Linked DNA regions of Homo sapiens. The protein of the gene in region 2 purifies or fractionates together with the protein of the main gene of each other region. This does not show direct contact. Each region holds a gene or a part of one and is shown on either strand. Other genes may lie near its edges.

What was found.
Region 1: the proteins of ST14 (region 2) and MAN1A1 purify together in Homo sapiens (affinity purification with mass spectrometry; one large-scale study listed by BioGRID and IntAct). This does not show direct contact.
Region 3: the proteins of ST14 (region 2) and FBN2 purify together in Homo sapiens (affinity purification with mass spectrometry; one large-scale study listed by BioGRID and IntAct). This does not show direct contact.
Region 4: the proteins of ST14 (region 2) and KIAA0319L purify together in Homo sapiens (affinity purification with mass spectrometry; one large-scale study listed by BioGRID and IntAct). This does not show direct contact.
Region 5: the proteins of ST14 (region 2) and TGFBR3 purify together in Homo sapiens (affinity purification with mass spectrometry; one large-scale study listed by BioGRID and IntAct). This does not show direct contact.
Region 6: the proteins of ST14 (region 2) and SERPINI1 purify together in Homo sapiens (affinity purification with mass spectrometry; one large-scale study listed by BioGRID and IntAct). This does not show direct contact.
Region 7: the proteins of ST14 (region 2) and SLIT2 purify together in Homo sapiens (affinity purification with mass spectrometry; one large-scale study listed by BioGRID and IntAct). This does not show direct contact.

The regions. Positions count from the first base shown.
Region 1 is NC_000006.12:119,342,257-119,346,761, forward strand, and holds part of MAN1A1 (mannosyl-oligosaccharide 1,2-alpha-mannosidase IA), read right to left. Parts: intron 1-4,505. UniProt on the Homo sapiens protein: Involved in the maturation of Asn-linked oligosaccharides. Progressively trim alpha-1,2-linked mannose residues from Man(9)GlcNAc(2) to produce Man(5)GlcNAc(2).
Region 2 is NC_000011.10:130,183,151-130,187,655, reverse strand, and holds part of ST14 (suppressor of tumorigenicity 14 protein), read right to left. Parts: intron 1-4,505. UniProt on the Homo sapiens protein: Exhibits trypsin-like activity as defined by cleavage of synthetic substrates with Arg or Lys as the P1 site. Involved in the terminal differentiation of keratinocytes through prostasin (PRSS8) activation and filaggrin (FLG) processing.
Region 3 is NC_000005.10:128,303,768-128,308,272, reverse strand, and holds part of FBN2 (fibrillin-2 precursor), read left to right. Parts: intron 1-1,069; coding exon 1,070-1,138; intron 1,139-2,324; coding exon 2,325-2,450; intron 2,451-2,636; coding exon 2,637-2,762; intron 2,763-3,190; coding exon 3,191-3,316; intron 3,317-4,505.
Region 4 is NC_000001.11:35,448,765-35,453,269, reverse strand, and holds part of KIAA0319L (dyslexia-associated protein KIAA0319-like protein), read left to right. Parts: intron 1-1,478; coding exon of another isoform or gene 1,479-1,493; coding exon 1,494-1,642; intron 1,643-2,760; coding exon 2,761-2,912; intron 2,913-3,264; coding exon 3,265-3,403; intron 3,404-4,505.
Region 5 is NC_000001.11:91,715,152-91,719,656, forward strand, and holds part of TGFBR3 (transforming growth factor beta receptor type 3 isoform a precursor), read right to left. Parts: intron 4,314-4,505; coding exon 4,161-4,313; intron 1,558-4,160; coding exon 1,417-1,557; intron 1,244-1,416; coding exon 1,085-1,243; intron 1-1,084. UniProt on the Homo sapiens protein: Cell surface receptor that regulates diverse cellular processes including cell proliferation, differentiation, migration, and apoptosis.
Region 6 is NC_000003.12:167,793,960-167,798,464, forward strand, and holds part of SERPINI1 (neuroserpin precursor), read left to right. Parts: intron 1-660; coding exon 661-865; intron 866-4,505. UniProt on the Homo sapiens protein: Serine protease inhibitor that inhibits plasminogen activators and plasmin but not thrombin. May be involved in the formation or reorganization of synaptic connections as well as for synaptic plasticity in the adult nervous system.
Region 7 is NC_000004.12:20,610,900-20,615,404, forward strand, and holds part of SLIT2 (slit homolog 2 protein isoform 1 precursor), read left to right. Parts: intron 1-4,505. UniProt on the Homo sapiens protein: Thought to act as molecular guidance cue in cellular migration, and function appears to be mediated by interaction with roundabout homolog receptors.

The DNA.
Region 1 (4,505 bases), on a different chromosome or scaffold from region 2:
TAAAACTCAATTTTAACTATTTTTGATACCCTTTTGAAACTTCATTATCCACTTTCCTGAGTTATTAAACAGCATATGGATCAATGCAATCTTGGCTTGATGGCTTTAGGTGGTGACCAGTAACAGCAATAATCACAAGCAGCATTTGTTGTGTGCCCACTTCATGTCTGATACCATTCTAAGTGCTTTACTATCACATTTAAGCCTCAGGATCCAACAAAGTGGGTACTATTAACCTCATTTTACAAATGAGGAAACTAAAGTTCTGAGAGATTAAGTAATTTGCAGACGGTCACAAAGCAAGAGAATGGTAGAGGCCAGATTCAGACCCACGTTATCTGAGTCCAGATCCACCCTTCTAACCACTACATTGCTTCAAATGGATGGATCAGAGACAGGTAAGTGCATCCCAAAAGAGAATCGCCAGAACCTACTTGGGTGGAGAGAATTGCCCATAGATTGGTGTGATTTTTACATGTCTACTTTTAAAACAATCATCCTTTAGGTTAGCTGTCATTCTTCTATTATCCATGGTGCAATATCAGAAGAGCACACACATTTATAATTTTAAAGCAGCCCTTCTAGTCATCACATGTCCCTTCTCTGGGTGATCCCCTTTCACCCTTTGTATATACAGTAACTCACTCTCTTCTTCTCTCCCTTCCTTCTTCTTCCCCACTTTTCCTCATAAAGAATGTTTAACTGAATGATTACAAATGCCTGTGCTTCTTGGAGAGATCTTTATAAAGAAAACAAGATGTCCTATCAAGCTTTCCCCGGGTGTCTTTACAAAGAAGAAGATTTCTAAACCATGCCACTGGTAAGATTTTTAAAAATTACTATAATTGACTTAAAAACTACTTTGATCCATCGTTGGCTGAAAAAAAAAAAAAGAAAAACCACCAACTTAGTATAAGGTCAAATTTATAATAATGCAGAATTGTATGTTTTCTGTACTCTCTATTAGGGTCTGCAAATAGTAAGCACGGATAATTTATACAATTCTTTGGGGTTTTATTTAGGAGACAAACCATGTGGGAGACAATGCGCAACACTCACAGAAGACTGGGGCTTCCCTCTGCAACTCAACTCTGCCACTAGCTGGTGATGTGATTTCCAGAATGATCTTTGTGTCTTGGTTGCCTCTACTGTAAAATGAATGAGCTACCTCTCAGATCTCATTCAGATGCAATACCTTACGACTCGGAGCATACACTTAGTTTTAAAATCTGAGATTTAAAGTTATCATGGCATAATTTGCAGAGTTTGTGTAAAGGGCCTTTTAACAGATTGAGAGGTTGGGGGTGGGGATAAGATATAGTTCAATCACTGAACACCAAGCAAGGAACTAGGCTAAGAATACTGAGGGAAAAGTCAAGACTTATTTCCTCAAAGAGGGAATCTCTTCCCTAAACTACCAAACAGGTATCTTGTTTATTATTTTCGTCTACTTGGCGGGGAGGTTGTTTTGCCACTCGTTTCACAGTATCTCTGGAGCCCACAGTGGCTGTTCCTATTTTGACTAATCAAACCCTTCTTTGACCAACATACACAAGATTATAAAGAAAGAAATTTAAAAGACCACAGGTGCTTGACTGGGTTAGGAGGTATAACCAGGTTCCAGTGCAATTCTGATCTACCCTGTGTATTCAGCCCTCATCCCTCACACGGATCTGCAGGCATTCCTCCCCTCTGACCTTCGGACACATGCTTAAAATTCTCTTCAATGAAAAATTTGTACCACCACAGCTTATGAAATAATCTGATTCAAATATGTAAGTTCTTCAATGAATTCCAACCAATTCAGATCTCATACAAATGCATTTTGTGTAATACTAAGATAAATTTTTCAAGATGGTTTAGTTCATTAGCTCACCTAAGAAGTACAGATAGATGCATTTGTTTGAAAATATTTTTTAAAACCTCTTTTCACACTTTTAACTAGTTTCTAAGTCCCATATACATAAGAAGCTCCTTTATATGAATCCCAGTTGCCTTGATAAGAGGAAGACAGAATATTCTAGGAGAAACTATCAACAGCTTACAGAAAATGAAGCTGAACATAATTAACTACCCATTACTGTATATATGTATTTTTTTGCTTTTGTATATTAACAGTCAGCACCTACTCCAGTACTTAAACTGTTGAAAACTAACCTACTTGTTAAGGAGAGAAAAACCTTCACAAACACTCCATGTCCTCCCTGCTCTGGGGAAGGGCCTCTGGGTGGAGCAATCCCACACTAGCCTATGTTCAGTAGGGAATGTGTCACGGCACAGTGGCACAGGCAAGCAACCTAAGGATGTTGAAGCTTCTTGGGTCAGGTCTCCAAATCATGGCTTTTATTATTTTGTAAATATTATTTTCCACCCCAGAACTACCCATAAAAATAAACTGGAAAGTTAAGTGTCAAAATAAAAGTGTTTTGTTTTAACCTGCCAAGGCAGATTATTCTCACATCTGATCTTTACCAAAAGGGTATAAACTGTCAATAGTTAATATAAATTATAGGCTATATGCCTAAGGCTAGCATAAAGTATAATAAATGTGAATTTTAACTACTAGCCATCAATATGAAAATGTTCTTTAAATTCATGATTACACAAATAGGTCTGGAATAAAATACTAAAGTCTTGTTTTAGAACTGAGAGAAGAAAACTGTGACCCCACAGGTGCAGGGTCCTAAAGCCTTACATGACAAATCTAAGGCTGCCAGTCTGCACATACCCCTAACCCCCACTTAGGTTGGTGAGGATTCCAGCCTGAGAAGAAAGGAGTCCCCTCTGACAACCTGACTGTCTTTAGCCCCAGCCCCTATTACTCAGGTCTCCCCTTAATTTCAGAAAAACGAAAAAAAAAGTCATCCTCCAAATTGGATTAAGGTTCTAATCCTAAAGGACAGCACAGGCTAATTGAGAAAATGGGAGAGGTTGAGGGGGGGGCGGAGCGGGGGAGAAGGGAAGCTAAAAATGATTTCTGATTAAAAAAAAAAGTAAATGGACTATTTTTCTAAAACTTCCATGCTGCTATTTTAACTTTTGTGCTTCATTATTCTAACACTGCTTTTTAAAGCTAAGGACAACCTGAGTACAATTTTAAGATCAAACTCATGAAAATAAATATACACTATGTATGTATCATAAATCTCAGAGAAATCCCAGGGTTAATTTACAAAATTTTAACAGAGGTGAAGGGAGGAAGATCTTAATTCTATTTTGAAGTTTTACATCAAAGATTCATCATCCATCAAATCAGTAGTGGAAAGCATTTAACATTTTTTGTGAAGCATTCTGTACAATGACCTATTTGAAATTAACAGAGTATCTCCCCTAAGACACGAAGTTGTTAAAAATCTACTGCAGTACTAGTAACATAAATGTGCCATAGATATAAAAAATAGTATTGACTGACTTTGAACCAAGTACAAAATAACAGGTTGACTCAAATTACAATCCAGTCTTCCAACATGTTAGACTTGAGTGCACTTTCTAAATTTTAACTATAAGTGTTGGTGCATTCAGGTGTGATAGAGAACCTAAGTATAAAGAGAATTAGAAAATACAGGAACAGGTCAGGCATGGTGGCTCATACCTGTAATCCCAGCACTTTGAGAGGCCAGGCAGGTCGATCACTTGAGGTCAAGTTCGTGACCAGCCTGGCCAACATGGTGAAACCCCGTCTCTACTAAAAATACAAAAATTAGCTGGGTGTGGTGGCACGTGCCTGTAATCCCAGCTACTTGGGAGGCTGAGGCAGGAGAATTGCTTGAACCCAGGAGGCAGAGGTTGGAGTGAGCTGAGATCACCCCACTGCACTCCAGCCTGGGCAACAGAGCCAGACTCTGTCTCCAAAAAGAAAGAAAAGAAAACACAATGGTAAAGAAAAAAACTAAGGCAAAGATCTACTGGTTGATAACAAAATGTCCACAGTGGTGCCTGAAACTGAATCCAAATACGTAAAGTTAAAGTCCAGTGCCCTATTTACAATGGGCAACCACTCTTGCCTCTCTAAAGCCAAATATTTACAGCACAGTTTTTAGAACAGCATCATAATTTCTTTTTTTTTTCTTTTGGTTTACAAAGGAATATATCTGCCTGAACTAATCTGATGGAAAATCATAATCCATTTCTTCCCATTAGCCTTTGACTAAACACTAAAGCTAATTATGCTGGCTCTTTTGGGTTCTCACAGCAACAAGGAATTTTAAAGAACACATTTAGTTCCACTGCTTTATGCAAGACTGAGCGGTTTCAAAACATCTAGGTGCTAAGATGTTAGACAGAGACTACGTAAATCTCGTTTACACGGTTAATTAAGACCTTGTGATTTAGGCATACAGACAACATGGATCTACTGGATGGATATGCACACTGTTAATATGTTGTCCTGAGTCTGAGACTGCTACTGCCCCACTGGTTCTGCTCTGAATGCACTTGTAATCACTCTTGGTCAGTACCAACAGCTTAACATCTATGTATCTTTCGTATTAAAATCTTTTCCTCGG
Region 2 (4,505 bases):
GCCCCTACCAGATTCAATCCCCCCATCACCTGGCCCAGGAGCCTGTGGCCAGCACTCAACTGCACACCCTACCCAGCGGCCTTGCCCTGCCAATGGTGAACCAGCCAAAAGTAAAAAGGTGGTGCTGTCATGGAAAAAACTGCTCTGTGTTTAACCTTGGGAGCCCCAGTCCAGGACCTCAAGGCACAGTGAGAGGCCCACTGTGGGAATCCACACCCACGCGCAGCCCCAACAGAGGGAAAAGCAAGCAAACCAAACGCCCAAAAGACAGGATGGCAACTTCCCCGGGTTCCTCCCTGCCAAGGGTATCCATGATGAGGGGCCAGAATACGGAGGGGCAGGTGGGGTGTCTGCTGCACCCAGTGACGGACCGGCGAAGGCTTCTGCCGATAGCACATGCCGTCTGCCCGCCCTGAATCCTGGGGATGCACCATGGCCTGGCACTGTGGCACTCTCAGTTTAACTACCTCACGCCCACTCAATACGGCTCACAACAAAAGCAACAGCCCATCCCACACCCACAGGTGTTGGCCCTTTTGACAGTTTCCTGATGTCATTCTTCTGGTGGTGATCTCGTAATTCGACAGTGTAAATTTAAGCTGATATGTCTTGGTTTGTCACATTTACCCATTATCAACTCACTGCATGAAAGATTCTCCTCACTCCTGCCTTACTGGGATAGGATACTTGTAACTCCAATTTTAGTTTCCTAATTGGCCATATTTGTGACTTGATCTAATATCACACACAGAAACACACCCCAGACGGCCACTTAAAATGTGTTCAAAATGCTTGTTCTGGAGTCTGTCTCTATATTTCTAAATAATATGCCAACGCCATAATCTCTTGATTCATCTATCTAGACATCGGCTGACTTTCTATTATGACAATGTGGATTTTAGTGTCCTTCCACCCTTTCTCTCCCCATCCTCCCAATAGTTACAGGCCCAGAGTTTAAAAAAAATTATATCCATACTCTAGGTTTTCATTATTAGCCTGTGAAAATATTGTTCACTATTATATTTCCTTTCTTTGTATATGTCTTTGTTTTTCCTGCTGTGAATTTTCATTGACTGGGGTTTCTTTTTAACTTGTACCCAAATCTTTACATACAATCTGAGAGCTCTGCAATACTCTTCTCAATCTTCTACATGTAACATCTGTTAAATAACTTATTTCATGTTCTTCCTGAGGGCCACAGTCCTGGAGCCGCCTGTCCTTTCTCATAGCAGTTGTCTGGAACTTCCTTCACCATTGCCCTGGGATTTTCCTTAATCTCCTTCTGCGTTAAAACTCCTATTTCCTGGATCATTTTCTTCATCTTTCTTGGTTTACACTTCATTGTGGTGGAACACATACTTTTTAAAAATTTTTTTCTAACCACAAAGACCCAGAAGAGATGAACATATACTTTCTGAGAAGAATATTTTTTGATACTTTGCATGTTTCTGAAAATACCTTAATTCTACACTCACACATTTATGGAACTTTGGCTGGGTATAGAACTATAGGTTTCAAATAATTTTCACTTAGAATTTTGAGGGCTCAAGCTGGGTGCAGTGGCTCACGCCTATAATCCCAGCACTTTGGGAGGCCGAGGCAGGTGGATCATCTGAGGTCGGGAGTTCGAGACCAGCCCAGCCAACATGGTGATACCCTGTCTCTACTAACAATACAAAAATTAGCCAGGCGCGGTGGCACGTGCATGTAATCCCAGCTACTTGGGAGGCCGAGGCAGGAGAATCGCTTGAATTCAGGAGGCAGAGGTTGCAGTGAGCTGAGATTGCGCCACTGAACTCCGGCCTGGGTGACAGGGTAAAACTCTGTCTCAAAAACAAAAAAAAAAGAAAGAATTTTGAGGGTTCCACTGTTTTTTAGCTTCTAATTTGCTTTTGAGAAATATGATAATGTTATAAACTCATTATCTTTTACTTATGACTTCATTGTCTTTCTTTGAAAGCCTTGAGAATGTGCTTTGAATTGGGTCTTTTTGTTTTCTTGAGACAGGGTCTTGCTGTGTTGCCCAGGCTGGAGTGCAGTGGTCTGATCATAGCTCACTGTAATCTTGAACTCCTGAGCTCAGGCAATCCTCCCACATCAGCCTCCTGAGTAGGTAGGACTATAGCTGTACACCACCGTGTCCAGTTAATTTTTTTCTAATTTTTTGTAGAGGCAAGGTCTTACTATGTTGCCCAGGCTTATCTCGAACTCCTGGCTTCAAGCTATCCTTCCATCTCAGCCTCCCAAAGTGATTTTCCTGTCTTATTTTTTAGATTATGTCTCCCTTTCATTTCCTCTGGTCTACCATTCCTTAATCCTTATTATATTTATCCTCTATTTATCCTTTCTCTGTATTATCCATCTCATTATTTTTAACCTTTCAATTGAGTTTTTCATTTTTGGTATCAAAATTTTAATTTCTAAGAGCTTTCTGTTTCTTTGAATTTTCCTCTTTCATGGCATCTTGTATTTGTTCCATGAATGCAAAACCTTCTCATCTTTATATTTCCATTGAGTATCTTTTCTCTGTTTTTGACTTTTTCTTCCATGTTGAAGACTTTCCTCAAATGCTGGGGGATCCTTGGTGGTTATTTTTATTTAGAAACAAGCTCCTGGCGGCTGTTTGGAAGCTCTGTGTGCATGCCTTGCCACAACTGGCTTCACTGGCGGGGACACAAGTGAGTGGCTAAACAGATTTTTTTTCTGGGCACTCCCAATGGTTAGACTATATACATCTTCCTGTGGATGGTTCCATTGCTCCAGAGAATAATTTTCTAATCTCCTGGCTGGAGTGATTTAAACCCAGCCACTAGCATTCAGGAACACGTAGGAGAAGAGACTCATTCCCCTTCTTTTCACCTCTCTCTACAGCCTTCCTCTGTACCTGGGGTTCTCAAGCCCACATATTCTTTGATTCAATCTCTCCAGACTATTTTTCCCATCCACTGTGGGAGTCTGCTGGGGCCTTTGTCTTTTTGCTTGGGGCCAAGGTGGAGATTTGGGTATTTCTAACAATGTCCTTTCTTGTCTCACCTCTGTCTTCTAGAATACTTGAGCCCAATCTTTTCTGAGCCTGGCAGAGAAGAGACCATTACCAAAGAAATACTGAAAGGATGTTTCCAAGAGCTGAAGAGAGTTGTAAATCTTCCAATTCAAAGGGCTCAGTGAATGGTGAGAAAGACAAATGAAACAGCACATATAGCCAAACAGATTGTATTGTGATGACATTTCAGAAGATCACGGATAAGAATGGATCCTCTACGCCTCTAGCTGTCATCTTTTCTCTCCCGTATTTTGCGTTTCTTCAGCGTTTGGTTCTACTTTGGGAATTTCTTTGACTTGCTCTTGCAAACCTTCCATTAAATTTAAAAAGCAGCTTCATTGAGGTATTATTGCATAAAATAAAGTGTATATATTTAAGTGTACAATTTTGGGCATCCATATGCACCCATGAAACCATCCACAGCTAAGATGATGCCCGTGTCCGTCTCCTTCAAAATCTCCTCCTGGCCCCTCCCACATGTTCCTCCCTGAATCCATTTCCTGTCCCCAAGAAACCACTCATCTGCTTCAGGCTGCTTTTCCCAGAGCTTTATGTAAATGGAATTCTGCAGTATGCACTCTTCCATCTGGCTTCTTTCACTCCGCACGATTCCTCTGAGACTCACGCAGGTTCCTGTGTGCCCAGCAGTGCATACCTTTTGGTTGTTGCTGCATTTATCCCATCGTTTGGACACACAACATGTGTTTACCTGTTCACCTATTGATGGACATTTGGGGTGTCTCCAATTTCAGGCCATTACAAACAGAGCTGCTAGAAACACTCCCGTAGCTGTCTTTGTACTGGCATATCAGCAATGAAAAACTGGAAACTAAAACTAAAAGACACCATTTACAATAGCTTCAAAAATATGAAATACTTAGAGGTAAATCTGACAAAAAATGCACAAAACCTGTACACTGAAAGATGTAAAATACTGCTGGGAGAAATTCTAAAAGACCTAAATTAGTTGAGCAATATACGCTGTTCATGGATTAGATGATTCAATATTAAGGTGTCTATTCTCAAAATTAGCTATAGATGCAATGCAATCTTTTTTTTTTTTTTTTTTTAAGATACAGGGTCTTGCTATGTTGCCCAGGCTGGTCTTGAATTCTTGGCTCAAGCAATCCTCCTGCATCAGCCTCCTGAGTAGCTGGGACTACAGGGTGCACCACTGCACCCAGCTGCAACTAGACATTTTTATGTTATCTTTGGAACTTCGCCTTTCAGGCTGGGTTTTCTTTAGACATCTGGTGGCCTCTGGTAGTCTAATCATATTTAAGAATGAGAAAACACAGATTTCGGCTACACTCTGAACAGACCATGTATGTGTATATATGTATAAGAAATGTAGGCCGGGTGTGGTGGCTCACGCCTGTAATCCCAGCACTTTGGGAGGCCGAGGCAGGCAGATCACCTGAGGTCAGGAGGTCAAGACCAGCCTGGCCAATGTGGTGAAACC
Region 3 (4,505 bases), on a different chromosome or scaffold from region 2:
ATCATTGATTTGGGGAATTAAAATGGCACTTTCTTTGTGAGAAGAAGCGAAAGGCTTGGAGTTGAGAGACGTGTCTGTATTTAAATCAAAACTCTTAAGATACTTATTGTGGAACCTCCTGCAGAGTATGTATCCTTTCTGAAACTAATTTCTCATGTATAAAATAGGAATAATAAATAATTACAGTGACTAATTCATATGGGTGCAATGACAATTAGGGAGATTATACATATAAATTATAATTTGAAGATTTCCAGACAATTAGAAACCATTAAGTTGAGCATCTGTGGTCTTTCTATCTGTTCTCAATACTCGGTATATATTGATGGATGAAATATACAATATCCCTGACCTGATAGCACTTGGAATATAGTATGCAGTTTAAGTTTTATATAATACTGTTTTCAGGAGTTTTACTCACTTGTATAGCAGTGAGCGTCAGAAGCATTTTTCATCTTGCAAATTAGAATTCTTTTAAATTTCCATTGATTTGGTTAATTATGTGTAAGAATACTTCTTATAGTCCCTATTTTATTTCATAATGCATTGTTTTTGATGACTCAAATTTCACATTCCAATAGACACAGTAAAAAAAAAAAAGACAAAATTCGCATCTCATTCATTATACATTGTTTACCTATTTCCCCTCTACAACATTATTTTTGCATGTCTATACCTTTGTGCAATCTGTAATTCCTTTTTCAATTTGTACTTCTCTTTTTTTTTAATCTTTATGTATTGGATGTTTTTTAAAGCTCTGCATATTAAAAGAAAAAGTATTTAAATATCTAAATGGACATTTTGAATCTTATAATGATTTACTTGCCTTCTGATATCAGAGCAGTAAAAAGTTAATGAGAGTAATAGAAATAACAATGATAATAATGGTAAAGAATGCCTAGATCCACTCCTAGCAGAAGCTGGCATTGCTATCAAATAAATATAATTGAAATCAAAATGTCTGGTTGTGAATAATGTAAAATATATTTGTTTGTGAAAGTAATACAAAATGTTATTTTGAAGGAATTTGAGAAATTTAAGAGTGCATTGCTTTGTTTATATTTTAAAGCTGACTTTAAAACCATATGTGGAAATATTCCTGGATTCACCTTTGACATTCACACAGGAAAAGCTGTTGGTGAGTTTTTCCAGATTATGTTTGTTTTAATACATATGTGTAGCATTCTGTAAAAATCTATTCTATGTTTTTAAAATTCAAGAGTACCACAAAATATAATAATCTGGGATCCAATCTAATATAGTTAGATAAGAGAGAAATAACAGGCTTACAGACTCTAACCAAGTATTAATAATGATACTCCATCAGCGTAGTCTGGTGATTGGGTTATGGTAGTTATGTGACTCTCTCGATATTTGTCACATCCACCAAGCTAAAGCTTCAGTTGTCCTTGTCATGCACATTGTATTACATGACTCTAAATAATCTACCTTATTTTAACCTTTAGTTGCTATTTTCTTAAGTACATTTTTTAATTTTTGGTGTATTTTTGCAGTATCCCTTTTTACTGGTCTAAATATGAATGTGCAGACTTATTTTTCATATTAATTAATTCCTTCTAAATGTACATTGTGTTGCTCACTCTAGCTTCCTTCCTCAAAGATTTGATAAGCAATATAATTTTTTTTTTTGAGATGGAGTTTTGCTCTTGTTGCCCAGGCTGGAGTGCAATGGCGCGATCTCAGCTCACTGTAACCTCTGTCTCCTAGGTTCAAGTGATTCTCCTGCCTCAGCCTCCTGAGTAGCTGGGATTACAGGCACCCACCACCACACCCGGCTAATTTTTTGTATTTTTAGTAGAGATGGAAGTTTCACCATGTTGGTCAGGCTGGTCTAGAACTCCTGACCTCAGGTGATCCACCCTCCTCAGCCTCCCAAAGTGCTGGGATTACAGGCGTGAGCCACCACACCTGGCCTAAGCAATATAATTTTAAGTCTCCATTATGAATATATGATAAAATAAAATACATACAATGATGAAAACATAGCTTTTTAAACAAATGAATAGCAGCACTTAGGGTAACCTGAAGAAGGGGTTTGATTGCCTAGAAAGTTCATTTGCTATATTGACTCTGAAATTACTTGGTATATTTTATCAGCTACTTAGATTTTTTCCATCACTGTTTCTATTTTCTGGTATATATGTTTTTATAAACCAAAAAAATTAGCTATACTAGTATATAATAGATTTTTGTGACACTGAATATTTGTACTCATCCCAGGGTACATGTAGCATTATTCAAAGTTATATGGTAAGTATATTAAACAGAACAACATATATTTGACCAAATCTGTTCCATTTCAGACATTGATGAATGTAAAGAGATTCCAGGCATTTGTGCAAATGGTGTGTGCATTAACCAGATTGGCAGTTTCCGCTGTGAATGCCCTACAGGATTCAGTTACAATGACCTGCTGTTGGTTTGTGAAGGTAATCTGAATAAAGTATGTCCTTTATCCAGTATAATTTGGTATACATATATAGCATTTAGATGGTTTCTGATTTTTACTATTTCTTCTACAATTTTTCAAGAGTTGATCATCAAAGTGTGACGTGAATGTAATGCTAATACAATACTAAAAAGGACTCTTTAAAATGGAATTGTTGCTCTTTCAGATATAGATGAGTGCAGCAATGGTGATAATCTCTGCCAGCGGAATGCAGACTGCATCAATAGTCCTGGTAGTTACCGCTGTGAATGTGCCGCGGGTTTCAAACTTTCACCCAATGGGGCCTGTGTAGGTAAGAAAGAGGCTGACTCATTCTTTGGCACTGAGCACAAGATTCCTTAGATTTCCTATCAAAAAATACTTCAAGAATAATTTGGGAAAGATTTTCTCACTTAACCTGTTCATTTATAGTGAACCTATTTCACCATATCTTTTAGATGATTTTGTTAAGAAAATAGATCTCTTCAATGGATTTCCCCAGGATTGGACCTAAAATAAAATAATATCCTTCAGATACCAATAAACATAAAAAAATTTGCATGATTAAAAAAAGAGGGTTGGATACTTTGAAGTCCTGCTCATTTTGATTCAGCTGTTGTTATGGTTCATTTTCAGCCTGCCTATAATAATTAATAGCAGATTAGAGAAACACAACTGTGAAAAATGAAGAAATCTTAATAAAAATCAGATACATGTAACATTTATTTTTTTCTGTTTTAGATCGCAATGAATGTTTAGAAATTCCTAACGTTTGCAGTCATGGCTTGTGTGTTGATCTGCAAGGAAGTTACCAGTGCATCTGCCACAATGGCTTTAAGGCTTCTCAGGACCAGACCATGTGCATGGGTAAGAAGGGCATGTGGCTCCAGGGAGTGAAGTGGGGCTGGGGTTCCAGAACAGATCACAGTTCCATCAAGTGCCATGAGTAACTACTATGTCTCTGTCAGAAACAATCTTGCAAAAAATTAACTAGGTCAAACTATTTAAGTCTTGATTCAATATAAAATTTGCAAGCAGGGACATACTGCAATATATAAAATTTGCAAGCAGGGACATACTGCGATATGTTCGTCAGTTCAGTGATTCACAGCTTTTTCTCCAGAAGATGTTCACATGGCTTGACAAGAAAAAACCCTCTGAGCCACTTGGGCTTGTGTGGAACTTACCATAGCACCCGCTGCCCTTTACTTTCATGTTTCTACTCAAGACACCATTTTGGAATGCAAGAGAGTAGTAAGAGTGACAGCATTAAACTTAATAAATTTATACACATATGCACATACTTTTTTAAAACAAATTGTTGAATAGTGGGATTTATGTACATATTTTGTGTTTTATCCCTTAAAAATAGCTTTAGGAGCAAATATAGCCAAACTCTTTAAAAATTCCCAGTAGCTAATGTAATGGGTAGCCAAGTGGTAATAGAGCTTAGTGAGTACTTGCTGAGCTGATGATTAATAGGTTTTCAAAGACAGATGGGCTGGATGCCATGAAGCTGGGACTGAGTATAACCCCTTAAGTCTGATGTCAGCAGTTGGCTCTGCCTCTGCTGAAGAGTTTTCTTTCTGTGCTTTGCACTTGAAAGGGGAAAATTAAATTTAAAACTTGGCTACTTGTAATTAGCATTTTCTCAGTGTAGAAAAGGCTAGGGCTGTTCAGCTACTCTTGATATTCAAGATATTATCTATGTGAATATTAAAATCAGATTTCAGTACTGCAGGACTGGTTTCCTTCATGACACATCCATACAACAGGGAATACCTGGAGTATGTCTCCAGGTTCATCCATTGCCTCCTAAAGCCCTCCCTTTGGACTTCTCCTATAATGGCAGGGAAAATTCTCTAGGTGATGTTTATACAAAGGAATATACAGGATCTGGTCTTATTTGCATGAACTCCCTAAGAATGCTTGTTTATACATGCTTCTTCTTGCTGTACTCCCAGAGAGAGTATGATTTACCAAAAAAAAATATGAGATTTATGATTCAGAATTTCGTATGGGGAAAATCTGTCCACTCATAACAATTCTTCCATGA
Region 4 (4,505 bases), on a different chromosome or scaffold from region 2:
CTTGAGAGGCAGGATGGAAGGGGTAATGGAGCAGAAAAATACTGTTGCTCAGAATTAACTGGGTAAGGCTGGCACGGGGGATGGGGCAGAGCAGCTATTAAGAGAAATTGAAAATACATCCATAAAATGAAAGCATTACTCTGTTATTGTTTTCTTGAAGACACCATTTACCAATTAAGTTAGCCAGAGGCCAAAGGCGGTAATCAAAATAATTCTAATTACATAGAAATTACCTAACTGAACCATTCTTAGTTCCTGTAGTTTCTTTTAGCTCCTTTAAAGCATAACTAATGCAACTGAAATTATATGCAGGATCCCACAAGTAGCAAAAGAATTCTAAGAAGAGTTAAAAGTATTCTCTGTTTCCAAAGGTAGCAACCATAGGACAGCCTGGGTTTTTTTTTGTATTGTGTTTGTTTGTTTGTTTGTTTGTTTGTTTGTTTGACAAAGGCATTGGAGATGGGTGGAAAAGAACTTTAATTTGACTATACAAATGACTTGCTTTTGAGATTGCTGAGTTGGAATCTAGAAATTATTTCCCTCAGCTCTTGTTTTTATCTTTTGTAGAACATAATCTTACCCAGCCCAGGGTGTTTTTAATTATAATTGTTTATTGAAGATATGGCTGATAGACCTTTTAGCTGAGTTTTATTAGTGTTTACAGCAGAGATAATGCTTAGCATAGCTTCTTGAAGGAGACTGTGCTTCAGGAGGAGCTACCAGGATCAGAGGCTGTAACTTTAAAAGGCAAAACAAAGTAAATCCTGGATGTCTGCAGATTTCTCTGGCTTTCCTGTAGTTAAAAGCTCTGGGGCATTTTGATCCTTGAGCAGAGGGCTCTCTGGCTGTGTGCAGCCTGAATGTTGGCACAGAGCTCCCTTGGCTGCTGCAGGCAAGTCTCTGAGGCCACAAGGGGGAAGAAGGGTTGTAGGGTGTCCTAGGTGCTTGATGGCCCCTGTCCAGGAGCTGGAGGGAACTTTGCTTATAGAGTTGCTACAAACAAGATGATTTTGTCCTGAGAGTTCCTCTGCAGTCTTGCCCCATTTCCTTTTCTTTCATCAGGAAGGATTTGGGCACGTGATTAAGAAATGCATTTTGCTTCCTTGCTGGCAAGAGCCAAACCAACTACTGGGCCAGAAATGCTTTTTAGAAACATCACTCTTAAATCATTCTTTTGATCAGAGACTTGCTCAGAGAACTTTCTTCCTTTTACAAACTAGAATGGTAAAGCGTTCAAGTGTTCTAGAAGCTCATATAAAGGATAAGGCTAGAGGTGTTTGAAAGCTATTTGAATTTTCTGACCAGCAGGCAGCCTGTATTTTGAGGCCAAATGACACTTTGTCCAATTGAAATATTTTTAAACATGTCTTGTCAAGGTCTGGGTAACAGTAGTTCGTGTCTTTGCTGAGGGAGTCATTGTCTCCTCCTGCTAAGTTAGGGACAGGACAGCAGCAGACAGGTACAACTCTACCCTCTAGTTTCTTTTTTTGCAGGGGACCTGATGGGGTGCAGCTCGAGAATGCTAACAGCAGTGTTGCTACTGTGACTGGGCTGCAAGTGGGGACCTATGTGTTCACCTTGACTGTCAAAGATGAGAGGAACCTGCAAAGCCAGAGCTCTGTGAATGTCATTGTCAAAGAAGGTACCTCTCTGCCTCCAGTTTGTGTAGCAGCCTCTTAGGGTCAGATAGCTGAAGAATTTATCCTGTCATGTTTGCCTGCAGAAATTGATTAGAGATAGCAAGAGGTGGGTAAGAGGGTTGGGGTGAGGGCAATTGTTATTTTCTTTTCTAAAACAGCCTTTAATTGGACTGTAAGGTGAATTTTAACTTCCCTCCCTCCTCCTGCTTACATCTTCCCTTCCCTCTCATCCCCTTACTTTCTTTTCAGTCCTCCCTCCTTCCCTCCTTACTTTATTTCTCAGTTGAATAGGGAAAGAATTAAGGGTTCTATTCTTTGCATTTTTATTTTGCCCCTCTGCATTGCTGAGACCTGGGCCGTGACTCCTGTTAGCTACAGTGACACCTGCTGTCAGGCTTGAGAATGACGGCCGCACTACAGCTGACTATGCTTGCCCTGAGCCTTTGAGCTGAGGCCAGCCAGAGGCCTTGCTCTAGTTTACAGGCACAGTGACCAGTGAGAGCTGTGGGAGAGGGCCTTAAGTTGAGGGCCTTAAGTTGATAGCAGGAAAAACCATCAGATATGCAGACCTCCAGACATAAGATACCAAGCTGAGTAAATACTGCACAGACATCTGAATATACAGAGCTTCACGTGGGGCTCCGAATAAGAGAGGTAGCTCTTTGTTTTCTCTTGTGAAGTTCCAAGGAAGGGGTCCAAAAAGATATTCAGAGAATAACATTTTAAGATATTTTGAAGGAGAATTTGCAAGATCAGCTAGGTGAAACCTAAACTCCAAGGTTTTAAGCCAGTTTGGGCCGTTATTTCTGATCATCACATACCTCCAAAGCAGAGAAATGGATTCCATTTGGGAAGGCTGCTGGGAGAATATGAGAGGAAAGCACACTCGTCCCCTCTGTTGTACAGTGTTAGGAGAACATTTCTCTGGGTAGGACTGGAACCTCAGGACTGCAGCGCTGGTAGCTTTCATCTACACTGTTGGTTGGTGGCAGGGACAGGCACTTAAAAAGGTTCTCCAGTTAAGGTACTCTTGATGTTTTAATTTCCCCATAAGCATCATGAAGAAACATTTCTTCTTTTCCAGAATGTCACATTATGTCAATGATTTCTTTTTGATTAGAAATAAACAAACCACCTATAGCCAAGATAACTGGGAATGTGGTGATTACCCTACCCACGAGCACAGCAGAGCTGGATGGCTCTAAGTCCTCAGATGACAAGGGAATAGTCAGCTACCTCTGGACTCGAGATGAGGGGAGCCCAGCAGCAGGGGTAAGTGTGCTAGGAGCTGGAGAGCTACACAGGAGTGGGGAGGAGGAGGAGCCACGCGTTCCAGTATATGCTTTAATCAAGTGGTCCCTTATATCAAACCCAGATTGTTCTCTGAAATCCAGGGAGGTGAAGTGACTTGCTTAGGGTCATTCTGTAAGCTAGTATAGCACAGAATGGGTTTCCCTTCCCTGATCCTAGCAGTTGTAGGCTGCAATGCTGTTCCGTATCAGGAACTGCCCAAGGTTGAAACAGTTCAGCCCTGAAGGGCCTAGTTATGGTGAAAGCAGCAACTGACTCCAGGAAAGGAATGGCATTTTGTTCTGTAACATAGCCATGTTGTTCAACCCTACAGGAGGTGTTAAATCACTCTGACCATCACCCTATCCTTTTTCTTTCAAACCTGGTTGAGGGAACCTACACTTTTCACCTGAAAGTGACCGATGCAAAGGGTGAGAGTGACACAGACCGGACCACTGTGGAGGTGAAACCTGGTGAGTTCATTTAGTGATGAGGCTGAGTAGAATTGCTGAATCAGCCAATCAAGGCCTCTATCCTGAGATCCCCTTCCCCGAGCATGGACAGAGCCAGATGGCATGTCCAGCTTTAAAAATAATCGAGAAACCCCAAGCTGAAAAATCCATAGAGACCGTCTGTTCCAATAATACCTCCTACCCATGCAGAAATACAGACCTCCCCCTATTCATCTCAGATGGAGAAACAAACTCAGAGAGGGCAGGACTTGCTCAGTGTCACACAGCAGTTGTGTCAGAGCCAGGCCTTTGTGCTCGTAGTCCAGCACTTTCTCCTCTCCTCGTGACTGATGAGAGAGGGCTCAGAGTGCTTGGGAATCTGAGCATGGGAATAGCTTGAGTCATGATGTCTCATCAGCATCCAGATGCAGAAAACAATTTATTTTTATAAGTTGAGCCTCAGGCCTTGTCTGATAATCCAGGGAAGGTAAAGTAATAGTGCTCTTTACATTTTTCAGCTTTGCAGAAATAAAAATTTTCTTCTTAAATAGAACCATGTTTTTATTTTGCTTTGAGATTAATATGGTGATAGGGAGGCACTGAGTATGGAGGTGGGATAGAGCTGTATAAATTCCTGAGCTTCTGATGAAATGGTATTAACTTTAAACCTACTCTTTATTATCTAGGCCAACCTCATATATGGATGTTTTGGACAGGAAGGGATCTTGGGAGGTCTTCCAGTCCTTGTCCTGCCTCTAGGAAGGACAGTAGCTGAGACACTATAAAATCTCTTTGGTGTTTAAAGTCAGATCACAGATAGTCTACTAATTATGCAAATTATACATCAGAACAGGCAAGTGGTGCATTCAAGTATGTAAATAAGGCATTCCAAACAATCAGTTTGAAATTCCAAATGTAGAACATCTTTAGGACATATTCAAAAGTAAAACATGATAGCCTCACCGTTTTAGAGTTATACAAAGATAGTGCAGCTGTGATGTGGCTCTAAGGAAATCCTTGTGTCTTGGCTGACTGGATTTTCTTTTGTTAACTGTATTTAAACCTGGAGGGACGGATGCATTCCCATTATTGAGGAGGTTGTTGAGATGGACACTTTTCCTCC
Region 5 (4,505 bases), on a different chromosome or scaffold from region 2:
GCCCACTTGAAACACTAAGGTTGAAACATGAAAGGTTGTACCCAGGGCACAAGAAACAGCAGACATCCTGGTGCCATAAGGACATTTATCTTTTCTAGAATCCACTCTCTGAACCTGGATGTTTGCATTGATAAGACGTTATGTTTTCTCCCCTTTCAAATGGCACTTTGGAGATAAGTGATAGTCGTATCCAGCGAAGATCAGTCAGAGCTCTGGAGTCACACGGCCTATGAGCACTGAATCTGAACTCCACTAGTACCAGCTGTGTGGCCTCAGACAAATTTGTGCCTCAATTTTCTCATCCATAAAATGAAGATATTATTAGCCTCCCTTATAGGATGGCTCTAAAGAGTTAACTAACTGCTGCAATACTTACAACTCTGTTTGGCACATAATAAATCTGCAGCAAATGTTAGATGTTGTTATTTCATTATTACCGCCACTGCCTAATATTGTGTAGTCACTCCAGATTCCAGATTTAGGTTGCACATGATTATTAACATTATATATAGGAAATAGTTTAAATAAGTTTATACAGATACTCAGATCATGATCTAGAAAAAAAAATGTCATGAGTTATAATAGCACATAGCATTTCACTTAAAAGTGAGTGCAATTTAAAAGATAACAAGTCAGTTTCAGTGGCGGCATGGACCCACAGGGATTTGGCTGCCCTGCTGGGGGCTAAGGGGACTGTGCAGGGAAAAAAAAAGAAATAAAAGATAACATATGAGGTGGTTTTGAAATATTCCATGGTTAACTCTAACACTGCAACTACTGAACTACTGTTCCAAAAGCAAAGGACAGGGCTTTACCAGTAGAATTCACACTTGCCAATTTTTTTTTTTGTTAACATTCATCTACAAAATACTGTCTTCACTTAGCATAATGTATTAAATCTTGAAATTTCCTGCTTTGGTCAGAAGTCAGTCTGGAAGCGTTCTCTGAGCCAATCCCTCATCAGACCTGTTGAAGGTCTGTGAGGTAGGACAGGAAGAGGTCTGTACAGGGTATTTTAGCTGATGTCTAAGGAACTATAGCCCAGCACTAACCTAAAAGGTCAAGGCTAACTTTCAGGTCTCACCTCAACATAAACGTGTCCATTCTCTGGCACAGAGAAGACGCCCTGGGAGGGCACCAAAAAGAGGTCAGTGTTGTATAGCTCCATGTTGAAGGTGATGTTTCCGTGGGGCTGTTCCTGGAAGCTGCTGGGGTTCCTCACCTGCTGAAGGCTGCAATTAAACTGGAAATAACAACCCACAGGAAGATTAATGACAGTCATATGAAGGATGAAGGCCCTGTAGCTTCATGAGCTTTGGCTTTTAACATCTGATTTTATTTTCAGATAGTCCCTAACTAAAGCCAACAAAATAGACAGCATTTTCCACAAACCCCCTACTGATAACAAACACATACCACCACGATTTCAGGTCGGGTGAACAGGGAAGCATCTCCTTCATCCATATCTCCCGGAAATCCATTATCACCTGACTCCAGATCTTCATAACCATCTGGCCAACCACTACTGTCCCCAAGGGCTGGAACCTGTATCACAATCTAAAAGGCAAAGAAAGCACAGCCAATGTTATAAAAACACCAAACCATGTGTGTTTGGTTCTGCCTCACACAAACACTCATGTAATCATTCTGATGCAAATTGAAAATCTGACTTTAAGACAAAATAATAAAATAACATCCAGGCTTTTTCGAATTATATCTTCAAAGTGATGAAGAATAAGGAGAAACCCAATGCAGGTTCAAGTTAAAAGCTAAACTAATATTTGTATCTTCTCTTGTGAAAAATAAATATTTATGTTGTAACCATATTGAATAATTACAAATGATTTCAAATGGTGGGAAAACACTAGATACTAGAATGGAGTTGAATGGAGTTGTCAAGAGACTTGCCTATACCGTGAGAAGGGGCTTCCCCTTAAGAGTCTTTATATTATAAACTCTAAGAACTACTAGCAGTTGGCGAATACAAGAAGCTTTGGTTATATATATCCTTTAAGAGTTGTAGAAAGTTTGGTTGGAGTCAGCAGCGAAGGACCTAATGTTTGGTTATATATATCCTTTAAGAGTTGTAGAAAGTTTGGTTGGAGTCAGCAGCGAAGGACCTAATGTTTACTATGGAGCACATCTCTTCATTGCCGCTCTTGTACCCCTCTAACTTTTGCTCATTTCTTCCCTAAGAAATCTTTCTCTATGGTGTATGGATGTGGAAAAGAATACGTTTTATTCCAGGAATCTTTTTTTTCCACCTTTTTCGCTATCCACCTGCAGATATATTCCCGGAATCTATCTTGACATAGGTTGAAATTATGATTCCTGGATTATTTCTAAATAGGATGAGAAAATTCACCCAAGGGTCATGACGCCATAAATGAAATCCTAATTTCTTTTGCTTCACATGCTTGGATTCTGAACATGATGCAAAATAGAAATATATAGTAAGTCTGAAAATTACTACAAACAATTATAATTGGTGAGAACAGCTAAAACAGTCTCCAAAGGGAGTAGGATGGGAAGAAAATTAAAAAAAAAAAACAAACTGCCTTTCTCTCTGTACCAGGTCCTCCAAAGAAAGTACTGACGCCAATTAAAGGAAGCATCTAGGATATTGCTAAACTCAAAGATCATAATAAAGAAAAGAAAAATATGTGAGAAAAAAAGGAACTTTAAGGGATCATTACATGCCTTTCTCTCCTGAAGCAACTGACTTTTTTTTTTTTTTATTTTTTCTTAACAGACATATTACTGTAGCCACTTTTGGTGTTAACTTGGACCCCAGTTTTAAAATGCCATAATCAAGTATTTCAGTAATATATGACATTCATTATATCTGTAGACACTGGATAACTGAACGAAAATTCATGCTGCAATTATCAGGAGGTCAAAGGTTAATAAATTAATTATTTGAGTAACAAAAGGAGATTAGCAGGGCCTAGCCTGGTGTCTAGGAAAGATTAGTGGACAAGAGGTCAGGAAGTTGGATTCAGTCGTCCTGGCTCTGCCATTAGCCCATCCCTGGAGTTTAAAAAAGCAAGTCTTTTTAACTTCTTGGAGTTCAGTTTCCTCACCTGTGAAATGAAGAAGCTGAATAAGCTCATCTTAGGGTTATTTGCTGCTCCAACAGTCTAATATTCTCTGAGGAACAATATGCTTGGGTTCATGGGAGAGTCACTTCCCACAGGAACCACGCTGACCAGAGCACCTGATTGCTAGCCTCTCTTCTCTGGATGGGGTCGAACTAGCAGCCACAGCTCAGCCACCCCATGTCAAAGCTGGATATGGCACTAAGAAGACACCCCCCCTCCCACCCCAACCCACCCTGTGTCAAAGGTGGACACAGGGATCTCTGAGCCTTATTTTTACCATTAAAAGTAAAACCCAAAATGCAAAATCAGCACTTTAAAGTTCTTTTGGAACTTCACATTTTAAATTCTTTTAATATTCACTGCCTAGTCTCTGCACCCAAGAGAATGGGTTTAATCTGAAAAGATTTTGACCAACTGAGAAGAAAGATTTCTGGAAAATGCAGCTTAGCTATTGCAACGGTTTATCATTGGGGGAAATCTGTGGAATCTTTCTCCAAGTAACTTCAAAAGTAGGAGAGTTTCTTCAATGTATGGTCTTTCTTAGAGGTGGAGAGAGACTTAATAATTCCTTAAAGGTCCTTTTTGAGTTTTAAATTCTCTTTTTGGATTTTTATTCATGAAGGAGGGAGAAGTTCTCCTACTTCTGGACGAGACTCAAATGAGGCCAGAGAGACCACACATCTGGTTAACCCGGCTGTGCAGAGGTGCTGCTCGTTCATATAGCCCAGGGCCTTAAAATTTTATCCTTATAAGGGCCAGTTGAGCTTGGGCACTGAGAGAAGTCATAATCACCTTGACAGTGCAGCCTTTGTCATCAGGAGACGGAAACGGGGGGTGAGAAAACAGGCCTTCCAATTCCCAAAGACTCACCAATAAAACAAATAAAACCAAAGAGCTCAGGGTCAAAGTACATCCATTTTGTTGAGAACTGACACTTGGCTTTCTTCAGGCCTGGGGTGAAAACCCTCTTCATCTTCAAAGAAATGTTAAGACTAACTTTAAGGGAGCACACAGCCAGGCTCTGGCAAAGGGCAAAGCTTTGTTCTGGAAAACACTCACGGAGTTATAGTAGACCACACCATCAAGGGCTGACCACCGGGGCCGAGTACCGCAGCCATTCAGAGGAGACTCCAAAACAAAGTGTGTGCCATTCATCTTGGCCTTGCAGGTAGGATCCAACAGGGTGACGTCCATCCCCGAGTAGCCACTGGCCTAAAACAACAACCACCAAAGACATGGTTGGAGGCCCACAGGCAGTTCTGTTGTATAATTGACACAATTGACAATTGCCTGGTCTTCCAAGGACAGGCGATGAGAGGCCTGCATCGTGCCCCTTCCCCAAGTATCTCTTCCCAGCTGCCCACCTCTCAACAGCTCAAGGGTAGTATCTGTTGGCCTTGGAAA
Region 6 (4,505 bases), on a different chromosome or scaffold from region 2:
AGCTAAATATTATACAATGCTTAGATTTCATTTTGACTCTGCAAACTTTGCTTTAAAACTTGTAGTTTTTGTGATAATAAAGTGCCAGGTATTAAATGGTCAAATTTTCCCTTCTTAAAAATCAGGTGAATATTGATCAATGTGCTTTGCAGTCAACTTGGAGCCAAGGCTTTATTTTTCTAACCAGGGCTTTTCATTGTTTCTAATGCTACACTTCAGATATATTGAATTATCTCATTTAAAAATAAAAATCAAGTCTTGAATACATGTTATTATAAATGTGAAATAATTCTGTGGATTCTAAAATAAAATAAATTATACAGGGCTGTGAACTTATTTGAATTTTAGGGCCTATTTTCAAATAAACCTGCTTTTTATCAGATGCTTGAATTTCTTTATATTCTATATACTATTTGGGAAGAAACATATATAACAAATTTAAACCTTTTTATTTATTTTTTTTTAGATTTTATTTCAATACTTTTGGGGAACAAGTGTTTTTGGTTACATGAAAAACTTCTTTAGTGGTGATTTGTGAGATTTTGTTGCACAAGTACCTGAGCAGTGTACACTATACCAAATATGTAGTCTTTCATCTCTCGCCCCCAGCTTTTTTTAAGCTTTGATAGGCATCTTTTATGGCCTTTATTTTCTTTTTAGGGGAATTTAGTGATGGCTCCAATGAAGCTGGTGGTATCTACCAAGTCCTAGAAATACCATATGAAGGAGATGAAATAAGCATGATGCTGGTGCTGTCCAGACAGGAAGTTCCTCTTGCTACTCTGGAGCCATTAGTCAAAGCACAGCTGGTTGAAGAATGGGCAAACTCTGTGAAGAAGCAAAAAGTAGAAGTATACCTGCCCAGGTATGAGGTTCCTGTGTCACCCGTCCCACAGCATGGACGATGGGCTATCAATGAAAATCTGACCCAGAAAAACTCTTCGAACTGCTTTCGAATTATAATTCTTGTGCCACTCTCTTCTTATTCTTGTTCTTCTCCTTCTCTTTCTCCTTCTCCTTCTTCTTTGATTTTCTTCTTTTTAGTATTCTTTCATAGTCATTTCTTTCATACTCATGTGGTCCTTCCCGTAGACACATGCTCACTTATTGGTTCATTCGGTGCTATTCATCGAGACCTAGTTTCAGATATAATTCAGTGTTCTTGTCTTTGTTTTAGAAAATTTATCTATCTGTTTTGTCTGAATATCATTTGCATTGACAGTCTTCTGTATTTTATTAACACTTAAGATTGATTATGACTGGAGAGGAAACAATCTCTGACATTGCTAGAAGAACTGCAAGCAAGTCACTGTGCTAGGTGCTGAGATGCAACCATAAATTAGCAGGAAGATGCAACTCTGCTCAAAATTCTCCCTGTGGCTAAAAGAATAAGATGCACACAATGCCTTTGATGTCCTGAATGCCATCCCCTTCTCAACCCCATTTCTGGCCACTCACCACATCAAGCATGTTGTAGCATGTTCTGTCCATGTACTTGTGATTATGCCACGTACATCATGCTCTTTTCATGTCTCTGAATCTCCACTTATGTTCTTGCATTGGCCTAAACTGCCCTCCTCATATTTCTTTCCCAAGATAGTGTTGCTTAGCCTTCAGGGTACACCTCTAGAACCAGTTCTTCTCTGAAGCCTCCCATGGAACTACCTGGAGCAAGTTACCCTCATTTTTGCTTCACTTATACACCTTTCTGTTATTACTTGTTACCATCCCATAATAACATTATCTTTTTGTAGGGCTAGTTTTCTTTCTGTAAGTTCTAGGGTAGAGCCAGTTTTCCTTCCTGTAGAAAGAACACAGTAAGTGTTTACAAAATGAAACTGAACTGAAAATGTTTATTCTATCCTTGAATACCTTAAAACCTAGTAGGAAAACTAGGCCAGTAAACACGTAGAACATGTTTATTAGCATACTATGTAAATTTTAGTCTAGAAAACAAGACATATCAATAAAAACAGATTAAATATATACGTATGTATGTACGTGAAAGTACAGTTAAAACACATTCCATATTAAGAAAATTGTTCAAGTATGATTAATTACTGTGAGCATTAAGGTGATAAATGAGTTATTAGTATTAAAGATGAATTATTAATAACTGATTAACCCATTCATATTTATTCTAATTTTAGGAATTATCATTTAAGGATTACATTTTATGTAAATATCAATGTTTCTAAAAACTTAGCTGATAGTTTGTTATGTAAGTGAAGGAGATCTATTTGGAACTATGGAGTTTTTGCCTGGAAAATTGTTTTATAATATATTCATAATATGGAATATTATGTTATGTCATAATTTATTATATAGCATGTCATGTTATATATTCATAATATATAACTATAAATATATAGCCATATATTTTCTATTTTTTATATTTTATTTTATTTTAAGGTCTGGTATATATGTGCAGAATGTGCAGGTTTGTTACATAGGTAAACGTGTGCCATGGTAGTTTGCTGCACCTATCAACTCATCACCTAGGTATTAAGCCTTGCATGCGTTAGCTATTTATCCTGATACTCTCCCTCCCCGCAACCCCCTGACAGGCCCCAATGTGTGTTGTTCCCCTCCCTGTGTCCATGTGTTCTAATTGTTCAGCTCCCACTTATAAGTGAGAACATGCACTGTTTGGTTTTCTGTTCCTGTGTCAGTTTGCTGAAGATAATAGCTCCCAGCTCCATCCATGTCCCTGCAAAGGGCATGATCTCATTCCTTTTTATGGCTGCATAGTATTCCATGGTGTATATGTACAACATTTTTTTTTTATCTGGTCTGTCCTTGATGGGCATGGCATTTTGGGTTGATTCCATGTCTTTGCTATTGTGAATAGTGCTGCAATGAACATATGTGTGCATGTATCTTTATAATAGAATGATTTGTAATCCTTTGGGTATATACCCGGTAATGGGATTGCTGGGTCAAATGGTATTTCTGGTTCTAGATCTTTGAGGAGTCACTGTCTTCCACAATGGTTGAACTAATTTACATTTCCACCAACAGTGTAAAAAAGTTCCTTTTTCTCCACAGCCTTGCCAGCATGTGTTGTTTCTTGACTTTTTAATAATTGCCATTCTGACTGGCATGAGATGGTATCTCACTGTGGTTTTGATTTGAATTTCTCTAATGTTCAGTGATGTTGAGCTGTTTTTCATGTTTGTTGGCTGCATACATGTCTTCTTTTGAGTCATGTTGTTCATGCCATTTGCCTACTTTTTAATGTGATTGTTTACTCCTTGTAAATTTTCTTATAGATTCTGGATATTAGACCTTTGTCAGATGGATAGATTGGAAGAATTTCCTCCCTTTCTGTAGGTTTTCTGTTCACTCTGATGATAGTTTCATTGCTGCGCAGAAGCTCTTTAATTTAATTAAATCCCATTTGTTAAGTTTTGCTTTTGTTGCAATCGCTTTTGATGTTTTTCTCATGTAATCTTTGCCTGTGTCTGTGTCCTGAATGGTATTGCCTAGGTTTTCTTCTAGGGTTTTTATAGTTTTTGGTTTTACATTTAAGTCTTTAATCCATCTTGAGTTAACTTTTGTATAAGGTGTAAGGAAGGGATCCAGTTTCAATTTTCTGCATATGGCTATATATAGCCACATATTTTCTTGTCTATATACAAAAGTCAAGGCAATCATAACCCAAATCCTTTTGGCTAAGATATTTAGCATGCATAACTTTCTGTGACAATACATATATGTAGAAATATTCCATTATAAGTCTATTCTTAAGGAGAGGTAGTTAATGAATACCTACCAAGCGTTTTTTTTTTATGTATGATAATTGACATTTATATACTAAATATATAAACAATGTACCTTAATTCCAAAGAACAATTTACTTTTGAACATGAATGATTAAATTTAAATTACTATGTAAATCAGGCCTAAAGTTATAAAACATTTAGTCTATGTTGGCCCTCATCTAATGACCTTTCACAATTAATTTTGTATTTTTTCTTGCATTTTATGAAGAATTCTTTTTGATAAAATGAGAAATTCAGTACAGTGTTAATGCTTCTCTTATTAAATCCATGAATTAAGTGCAGTGCTTCCAAATGCTCCAATTCTATGAGGATGCAAATTTATTTAGGAGTATATTAACAGAATTCTAAATGAATGCTTACTAAATATTATACATTCTAATTCAACCATATTCACTAGAAAATGTGGCCTCTAGGTCCTGTCCACTGAGAAACTGAATGTGGCAGCAGAAGAAAATTAAATTTTCATTTCCTAAGAGATACTCTTCAATTATGAAATAGTTTGGCTGTCTTGCTCATATTCATGCCTGTACTAAATTAGGCACAGGTAATTATCATGTATCAATTTTTCCAGAAGTTCCATAAATTCTCCCTGTACATGGCTAATGCATAGATAGGGAGGCTAAATAGCAAAATAAATAACTCTGGATTCCCCTTTTAACAGAATGGCTCTTTTCAAATACTTATATGTTACAATAATCAGTGTGAAACTCTCCACCTTCT
Region 7 (4,505 bases), on a different chromosome or scaffold from region 2:
ACAGAGATATAAGCAAAGTTCTGTAGGAGCCCATCGGAGAGGACCCGCAAAGGAGAGAGGTCCCAATCTTGCCTCTATTTGGAGGAACAAATATAAACTGGAGGCATAGAGTTTCAAAATTCTGGTAAAGGAGCCAGAAAGCAGTTAATGCTGAATTGAGAAGCATTGGATTAAATTACATTGAATTTATTTGAATTGACTGATTAACTTATTTTACAGATAAATAAGTAAAAGCTTTGAACAGGTTAGTGTACAATTTCATCACCATGACAGATATTTTCATGAGTTTCACATCATTTTCTGAAAAATAATAACCTATGCTACACCATTATCTCAACCACTCAAAGCCTTCTTTTCAGTGCCTCTAAGCCTAGGACATTTCTGTTTTAATAATTTCAGTAGTAGACAGTCTTAACATTTTGACAGAGTTGGATTGTTTTAGAAACAGTTGGAAGTCTTTGGTTCAATTCTGTAAATATTTATTGAGTACTTACCACATACTAGGAACTAAGTAAATGGATACATAAAGGATATAAAGTTGAAGAAGAAATGTCCATTCTACTCCCTAAAAAGTCAAGAATGCAGAGGCATCTTCAAGTAACTATAATGCATTATAAATAAAGTATTGCATAGTGAGTCTACTCAGCAAGTTGACTTATCTGATTGCTTCATGGGAATCACAGCAGAGAGTCTCATTAAAAACCAAATCTTCCATTCTTGCCAGCACTCCAGTTTACAGGGTTGCTTTTGGATGGGTGAAGCCAAGTCACAAGCATACCTGTGATTTGAGAGAAAATAAATTATATTTATTGAGCACATGCTATGTGCCCAACACAGTGCTCCTTTTATAGCCTTAATGTGCAGAGATCTTAGGAAATAGGTATGATTTTCTCTGTTTTGTAGTCCCTGAAGAGCAATCTCAAGGATTTTATATAACTTGTCCAAGTACACAAAGCTATTATGTAGTAGACACCTCATTTAAGTCCAGATCTGGCTGACTCCAAAGCCACCTGCATTGCCATTCACTTCTTCACATAAAGCAGAAAGGGAACAAATCTAAGTGCTGTGGCCTTTTGTTGTTTATTTATGGACTTTTCGTTCACTTGATTTTATTATGTTTTCATTAGAATCCACTTCATTAAATCTTTCGAAGCCCCTTTAGAATATAGTATAAAACCAATTTTAAAAATACAGGGGGCTGGGCATGGTGGCTCACACCCATAATCTCAGCACTTTGGGAGGCTGAGGAGGGAGGATCATGTGAGCCCAGGAGGTTGAGGCTGCAGTGAAACATAATTGCACCATTGCAGTACAGCCTGGGAAACAGAGCCAGACACTATCTCAAGAAAAAAAAAAAAAAAAAGAATACAGGATGAGACTGTTTAAGTCAGAACATTCCCCCGCCCCCCGCCAAAAAAAAAAAAGAGGAAAAAAAGTTTTAAATTTCAAAATGAAAAGTATTTATCCTTCTGAAGGTAGAGGGCCTGGAAAAATTCAAACAACACCTCTGTCCACCCAGGCCTCAAGGAAACCACTTTCATCCCAGTCCCACTGCCAGAGATCACCATGGGCCCACTTTCTCCCCGCTTAGAGTGCAGTCTCAAGGGTGACTCAGATTTTCAAACCACAAGGAACCTGTAAGACCACAGCCTTGAATGCTGTATGGCAAAGGCATGAGAAGCAGAGGGAGAAAAGGAGAGCAAGGTAACTAAGTTCTCTTTAAAAATAGTGACTACAGCTGGGCGCGGTGGCTCACGTCCGTAATCCCAGCACTTTGGGAGGCCAAGGCGGGTGGATCACGAGGTCAGGAGATTGAGACCATCCTGGTTAACACGGTGAAACCCCGTCTCTACTAAAAACTACAAAAAATTAGCCGGGCATGGTGGCGGGCACCTTTGGTCCCAGCTACTTGGGAGACTGAGGCAGGAGAATGGCATGAACCCAGTAGGTGGAGCTTGCAGTGAGCCGAGATCGCACCACTGCACTCCAGCCTGGGCGACAATGGGAGACTCCATCTCCAAAAAAAAAAAAAAAAAATTATGTCTACAGTGAGATACCATCTCACACCAGTGAGAATGGCTATTATTAAAAAGTCAAAAAATAACAGCTGCTGGCAAGGTTGTGGAGAAAAAGGAACACTTATATACTGTTGGCAGAAATGTAAATTAATTCAGCCATTGTGGAAAACAGTGTGGCGATTCCTAAAGACCTAAAAATAGAGCTACCATTCAACCCAGCAATCCCATGACTGAGCATATAGTCAAAGGAATCTCAATCATTCTATCATAAAGACACAGGCATGCATATGTTCATTGTAGCACCATTCATAATGGCAAAGACATGGAATCAACCTAAATGCCCATCAATTCTAGACTGGATAAAGAAAATGTGGTACATATAAACCATGAAATACCATGCAGCCACAAAAAAAGAATTGAGCTGATGCCCTTGGCAGGAACATGGATGGAGCTGGAGGCCATTATCCTTAGCAAACTAACACAGGAACAGAAAAACACATACTGCATGTTTCTCACCTATAAGTGGGAGCCAAATGATGAGAACACATGGACACAGAGAGGGGAACAACACACACTGGGGCCTAGCAGAGGGCGGAGGGTGGGAGGAGGGAGAGGACCAGGAAAAATCACTAATGGACATTAAGCTTAATTCCTGGGTGCTGAAATAGTCCGTACAACAAACCCCTCGTGACATGAGTTTACCCGGTTTGTTATACGGTAACACATAATACACTGTTGGTGGGGAGTGTAACCCTCATATACCCCTGAACTTAAGATAAAAGTTAAAAAACAAAACAAAAAACAAAAAAAACCAGGGATGCTGCCCAAGGAGGACTGCCTGAAGGTGTTGCCTCAGCATCTGGGGAGAGGCAGCCCCTTGGTGAGTATATGGAGAGGCAGCTTAACCTACCCTTGGGTTATCAACTACCCATGATATGTGCTTTACTTGACACAATTTTTTTTGTTTTTCTGAGATGGAGTTTCGCTCTTGTTGCCCAGGCTGGAGCGCAATGGCACGATTTTGGCTCACTGCAACCTCCACCTCCCGAGTTCAAGTGATTCTCCTGCCTCAGCCTCCCAAGTAGCTGGGATTACAGGCGCCTGCTACCACGCCCAGCTAATTTTTTATACTTTTAGTAGAGACGGGGTTTCATCATGTTTGGCAGGCTGGTCTCAAACTCCTGACCTCATGTGATCCACCCACCTCGGCCTCCCAAAGTGCTGGGATTACATGCATGAGCCACTGCGCTCGGCCGACACAAAATAATTTAGTTTTCATGTTTTTCTGTCTGTAGTCCAACTGAACCCTTATTACCTAATGGGGAAGAAAATCAAAAAATAAGCCCCATGCATGGAAATCCATGTATATGCAACAAATGTCCTCCTTGTCCTGCCACGGGACAGAGGACCTAGGCTTGATACTTGGTCTCTTTATTGCCATTTTGAGGCCTGTAGAAATAAGGCTAAAAGCTGTTTGCTAAGTTATCTGTTGGTTGATTGATTGATTGGCTGATTGATTGAATGATTTCCAACTAGGCCAATAGCATAGAGGAAAGGCTTAAAAAAAATCATGGATCTGGCCAGGCGTGGTGGCTCATACCTGTAATCCCAGCACTTTGGGAGGCTGAGGCGGGTGGATCACCTGAGGTCGGGAGTTGGAGACCAGCCTGACCAATATGGAGAAACCTGGTCTCTACTAAAATTACAAAATAAGCCAGGCGTGGTGGTGCATGCCTGTAATCCCAGCTTCTCGGGAGGCTGAAGCAGGAGAATCGCTTGAACCCAGGAGGCGGGGGTTGCAGTGAGCCAAGGCTGCGTTCATGGCACTCCAGCCTGGGCGACAAGAGTGAAACTCCGTCTCAAAAAAAAAAAAAAAAAATTCATGTATCTACTTCTGTTTGTCAATGAAGACCTAGCACGTGAAAAGATTGACTCAGAATAATTCCTGATTTTATGATAGCCTATTGAAACTCAAATATACGTATGATGTCTAAACATTTTCATTTACAAATTACTCTAGTCAAAGCTGGGCTTTTTCTAATTGTTAGCTTTGGAACAAAAAGGAACAGATTTACTAATTGTTTCTCTGTGCTGTGGAACTTTGCCAATCTGTATTTATTCTTGACATGTGCACATATGTGTGTTGTGCCTATATCAAAATGAGCTATTAAAAATAGTTTTGGAAGAAGTTCATTTTTAACCACTGAAAAAAGGACCATAAATATGTGGTCATTAAAGTCCTTATGATGGATGGATATGGTTAAATTAGAAAAACTTACCCCAGGGCAAGGAATTTTCTGTCACCAGTCCTTTCCTGGAAATGGTAAGTTTCATCCTTTTGACCCTGCTCTAGAAAGCAACCCACAGCGAGATGGACATAGACTAAAGGCCTGTACTCACAGAACTTCACAGCCAAGAGACTTCATTCAATACCTGTCAGAGTGTAACCATGGACTACCCAAATCACCTGAGCTGCATGTAGATATT